2 separate regions of the Homo sapiens genome follow, and region 1 is linked to region 2. The links come from fine-mapping of genetic effects on gene expression. A gene starts in region 2. The other region holds a variant in brackets. All regions are shown on one strand. Distances are between the middles of the regions.

Region 1 (2,912 bases), 51 kb after region 2:
CTCATGAAATATTTTTGGTATACAAAGAGGTATAAGGTAGGGCTACTTCCTCTGCTTATCTGTGATGAGATCACAAGCTTTTGCCAGTACGTACATCAAGCAACTGCTGCAGCAAGAAATCTTGCTGAACAATGTTTGCTGAACTACACAGTGTGCTTAGCGACATCATTGACTGACATTCTGACTTAGCCTCTTCCGTCACTGAGGGTTTTGGTCCATAAGCAGCACTGACATAAAGGAGGCCAGAGCACACACCCAGGACTTAGCATCCAGCTTAGGAAATGAAATAGCACCAGTGCCCTGACACTCCCTCTTTATCACCTGCCAGTTGCATTTCCCCACTCTCAGCCCCACCCCAACCAGGCAACCACTCCTGATTTGGATAAGCATCATTTAAATGACTATATGATAACCCACCACATTGATGTATTGTAATCTACCTACCTATTCAGTTACATAAGTACATAGTTCTGATCTGGTTTTAGTTCACTGAAAACCTGTGTCCTTAGCTCAGGACAGGCAAAGCTTCATATGACCCCTTGTATGATTTCAGAATTTGGAGTATTTTGATTGATTGATTGATTGATTGAGACAAGGTCTTCCTGTGTTGCCCAGGCTGGAGTGCAGTGGCGTAATCATGGCTCACTGCAGCCTTGACTGCCTAGGCTTAAATGATCCTCTCACCTCAGCCTCCCAAGTAGCTGTGACTACAGATGTGTGCCACCACACCCAGCTAATTTTTAAATTTTTTGTACAGGCAGGGTCTCTTTATGTTGGCCAGGCATAACTTGAGATTTCTGGCCTCAAGTGACCTTCCCACCTTGGCCTCCCAAAGTGCTGGGATTACAGCTGGATACAGCCACTGCACCCAGCTGAGTATTTCATTTTGATAGTTGAATTTACAAGTGTTCTAAAGGGTTTTTTGCTTCAACCTACCATTCAAAACATGCACACACCAAACAAAACCATACCTCTATGACTTGTGTCTGCTAAGAGCATCTTGGTAACCCCACAGGGGTTACACAGAATAAGCTATAGACGCTTTCCCCAAGAAATTCCCTCTTCAGTGGCGAGTGAGAAGAAATACATGAGTGGTTATGACACCAGACAGGACATACTAGCTAGCAACGCGTTGCGGGGTCAAAGTGGGTGTGAGTTTTGAGCCCTGCTTAACCAGCCCAGACACCCTGACAGGCTCTGGAGCAGTGGTTCTCCTCTGAGGGTGATTTTGTCTGCCAGGAGACATTAGGCAACGTCTGGAAGCAGTTTTGGTTTTCACAGATGGGGGTGCTACTGGCGTCTAATGGGTACGGGCCAGGGATGCTGCTAAACGTCCTGCAGTGCCCAGGACAGCCCACACACCAAAGCGTTATCTGTACCCAGGACAGCCCACACACCAAAGCGTTATCTGTACCCAGGACAGCCCACACACCAAAGCGTTATCTGTACCCTGGACAGCCCACACACCAAAGCGTTATCTGCCCCCAAATGTCAGGACTGCCAGGCTTGAGAAACCCTTCTGGAATGAAAGGTCTGTGAGACCAGGGTTTTTTTTTGTTTGTTTGTTTTTTAAAGTAAACATTGGAAAAGTACACTTAAGTGTACGGCTAAACACATTTTCACAAAGATTCCA[A/G]CACCTAGAAGAAGGAACAGAATATGACCAGCACCCGGAAAATATCCCTTGTGTCTGCTTCCAGCCCTGTGCCTCTCTAGAAAGGTTGTTCCCATCCTGACTTTTTTTTTTTGAGACGGAGTCTTGCTCTGTCACCCAGGCTGGAGTGCAGTGGTGCGATCTCAGCTCACTGCAAGCTCCACCTCCCAGGTTCACGCCATTCTCCTGCCTCAGCCTCCCGAGTAGCTGGGACTACAGGCGCCCACCACTACGCCTGGCTAATTTTTTGTATTTTTAGTAGAGACGGGGTTTCACCATGTTAGCCAGGATGGTCTTGATCTCCTGACCTCGGCCTCCCAAAGTGCTGGGATTACAGGCATGAGCCACCGTGCCCGGCCTCCCATCCTGACTTCTAACATCCTATTTTAGTTCTGTTTGTTTCTGAGTTTGATGTAGAAGGAAACACACAGCACATTCTTTCTGGGAATCTGGTTTTTTGGCTCAGCATTGTGAGAGTCATGCATGATGCTGTATGTAGCCGTAGTTCATTCGTTTTCAGGGCTACAATGTTCCAGTGTTTGATACACCTTTCCATTTTAATTAGTTGGACAGGCTGGGCGTGGTGCCTGTAATCTCAGCACTTTGGGAGGCTGAGGCAGGCAGCTCACCTGAGGTCAGGAGTTCAAGACCAGCCTGGCCAACATGGTGAAACCCCGTCTCTACTAAAAATACAAAAAAAATTAGCTAGGCATGATGGCGGGCGCCTGTAATCCCAGCTACTTGGGAGGCTGAGGCTGGAGAATCGCTCAAACCCAGGAGGCGGAGGTTGCAGTGACTGGAGATCACACCATTGCACTCCAGCCTGGGTGACAAGAGCGAAACTCCGTCTCCAAAAAAATAAATAAATAGGCCGGGTATGGTGGCTCACACCTGTAATTCCAGCACTTTGGGAGGCTGAGGCGGGCAGATCATGAGGTCAGGAGATCGAGAGCATCCTGGCTAACATAGTGAAACCCCGTCTCTACTAAAAGTACAAAAAATTAGCCAGGCGTGGTGGCAGATGCCTGTAGTCCCAGCTACTCGGGAGGCTGAGGCAGGAGAATGGCATGAACCTGGGAGGTGGAGCTTGCAGTGAGCTGAGATTGCGCCACTGCACTCCAGCCTGGGCAACAGTGCAAGACTCTTGTCTCAAATAATGTAAATAAATAAATAGTTAGACATTGGGGTTGTTTCCAGTTCTGGTTAATTTATTATGAATAGTGCTGCTGTGGTGAAGGTAGGTCCAAATTTTGCTTAGATA
Region 2 (2,912 bases):
TTTGCACAAAGAACTGGAAAAGCTGCTGCACTTTTCGGAGTTGGGGGTGGGCTTGGTTTCCACGTTAATACACTCCCGGGCGGATATATGGTGTCCAGACTCCCCATGCCGAGCGCTGCCTATAAATGAACACTCGCCACACACTGGAGCCTATTCCTGAGGCTGCAGAAAGTACCAGGGCATTTTCTCCAGTTTAAAGTTTATCATTAGGCATCCGCTGTAGAAGAGCTCAGCACACTGGGCTCTGTGAAAGTCACCTTCTGAAGTGCCTGGTGTTGATGGAGACAAACGGTACTTGGTTTCCTTTTTTAACACCTGTCCCTCAACAAACCACATTACTGATGAGGCATCTTTCTGATGTCAGAAGAAATGTCACTTGTTAGAGACAGTAGTACAGAGAACAGGACTGTGGAGTGGGGAGCACTAACTGTGCTTGGGAGGCAGACAGACTTGGGTTTGAGTCCTGACTGAGCCCCTGAGCAGCATGTGACTTGGGGCAAGTTTCCTCATCTGGAAAACAGAGATAATAATATCTACCCAACAAAAGAGAGGATGCAGTGAACTTGTGGCTAAAAAACGGGCTCTTGTAACTTCCTTCTCCTCTTTATCAAACCCTCCAGCAGCAACCCTAGGTGGCCAATCAAGGGATGCCAAAAAACACTCAGCCTCTTTAATTTTGTGCATACCAAAATCCCCTGTTCCTTTTGCAAAATACTTCAAATTTACCAACCAAGATCTGTGTGTAAACGTCCCTCCTTGGATCTTTCCCCTCTATCCATCCTGGACAGAACACCTCGGGAGTCGGATGGTAGGGGTTGAGCTCAGGTGTTCAGCAAGGCCAGCTCTGCAAGGGGATAAGACATGAGGTGGATCCCACCTCACCTGGACCACTGACTCACTGTGTGACCCCCAGAAAGTCACACAACCTCTCTGGGCCTCAAATACCCCTGGAAGCTATGCTTTCATGGACAACAGTAAAAAAGATGGGTAAAGACACCCATCAAAGTCCTGGGGACAAAGAAGTGGGAATGTGACTGCGGTCGGGGTGAAAGAGGACAACTTATAACGTTTATTTTTCTAAAAATTTAACAAACGACTTGAGGCCAAATATGCCACAAATTTTGAAGTCAGCTTTAAATGCAGAGTTAGGTATATTAACACTTTGTACTCTCCCGCATTTTCAGAAACCTTGGATGGCAGCCAACAGATCCTGAGCGCGGGGCCGCATCTTCCCGGTGCGCTGTGGCCCCTAGTCCCCCCCAGACCCTATTCTATCAGAGGGCCACCCCGAGGCTGGGGCGCTGACCGTCCAAGGTCACCGGCGCAGGGGCGGTGTCTGGGGCTCGGGGCGAGAAGGAGGCCCGGCGCGGGGCGGGGCGGGGACGCTCACGCTCAGCCCTGGCCGCAGGCGGCCGTACTGCTCCGACACCCAGAAGCCGCGCCGGTCCTCCAGCGCGATGAAGGGCTGGTCGGGAAAGCGCGCGCGGAACTTCCTGAGGAATCCGCCCTCGAAGTCAGCCAGCACGCCGTCCATGTCCACCAGCACCCGTAGGGCGCGGCCTCCCGCCAGGCCCAGCCCGCCCGCCGCCCCGCGCCGCCCCGCGGGAACCGCCGCGCTGCAGAGCCGCCGCGCACACCAGCCGCCCAGCCGGATCATGGCCCAGCGCGCTGGCCCGTCGTGGGCGCGGGGACCTGGGCCGCGCCGTGCTGCCGGAGCCGGCCAGACATTCCCGCCGCGGAGGAGAAGCCCCCAACGCTGGGGCGCGCGTGGAGCGCGGGACGGGGAGCGGGGCGGGGAGCGCGGGGTGCGGGCGCGCAAGTACCGGCCCCAGAGCGAGGCCGCGGCGCGCGCGGTCCCTAAAGGAACACGCGCCGGCGGAGGCGGAGCCCCGGGGCGGGGCTTCGAGGACGGACAGCGGTAAGCGCCGCGCGCCTCCAGAAGGTCCGCGCTCCCGCGCTGTCGATTTGCGTCTTCTCCGTGGACCCTGGGCCCGGGCTGCCTTCTCCCACTGCACAGACTACCATGGAGGAGCAGTGCAAACCGAGAAGCAGGCCTGTGTCGTTAGACATTTTTGAGCACTAACTGTGTCGAGTGTGAACCAAATAGACAAAGTTCCTGCCATCCTGGAACTTACGTTTTAGAAGGGGATCCAGACAACAGGATGGAGGAACAAAAACAGGGTGCACTCTGAAAGCCTCTCTGCTTTATTTACAGCAAATGTCTGCGGAGAGACTGATAGAACCAATATCTGCTAACATCATACAGCCTTAGTAAAACTGATGATTCTCAGGTAAATATATGAATAAATATTAAGTACCCCTGTATTGCTTTTTTTTTTTTTTTTTTTTGGAGACGGGGTCTTGCTCTGTTACCCAGGGTGGAAGCAGTGGCATGATCTCGGTTCCCTGCAGCCTTGAGTTTCTGGGCCCAAGGGATCGTCCTGCTTCTGCCTCCTGAGTAGCTGGGACCACAGGGGCCTGCCACCACACCCTGGTAATTTTTTTTTTTTTTTTTTTTTTTTTGAGACAGGAGTCTTCCTATGTTGGGCTCAAACGATCCTCCCACCTCAGCCTCCCAAAGTGCTGGGATTACAGGCGTGAGCCACCGCGCCCGGCCTCTTTTCAACTTTTAAGTACAGGGATACATGTGCAGATTTGTTATATAAATTGACTGTCTTGGGGGTTTAGTGTACAGATTATTATTACCCAGGTAATAAGCGTAGTTCCTGATAGGTAGTTTTTCCATCCTCACCCTCCTCCCACTCTCCACCCTCAAGTAGGTCACCGTGTCTGTTGTCCCCATCATTACGTCCATGTTTACTTAATGTTTAGTTCCCGCTTTTAAGTGAGAGCATGAGGTATTTAATTTTCTGTTCCTGTGTTTGCTTAGGATAATTGTCTCCAGCTCCATC

The links.
Region 1: its variant is fine-mapped to the expression of NT5M in whole blood (TOPMed, PIP above 0.99).

Annotation. Positions count from the first base shown.
Region 1 is chr17:17,250,902-17,253,813 of GRCh38, reverse strand. The region is part of intron 9 of COPS3 (COP9 signalosome subunit 3); the gene reads left to right. Among named protein-coding and RNA genes, the nearest start is that of FLCN, 15 kb to the right of the region's middle. RefSeq lists a silencer at 2,522-2,624. The variant A/G (reference allele first, on the strand shown) is at 1,634.
Region 2 is chr17:17,302,296-17,305,207 of GRCh38, reverse strand. It overlaps NT5M (5',3'-nucleotidase, mitochondrial), which reads right to left and starts at 1,835. Exons shown (of 5, transcript NM_020201.4): 1 at 1,391-1,835. The coding sequence starts at 1,657. RefSeq lists silencers at 1,266-1,455, 1,586-1,685, 1,736-1,905.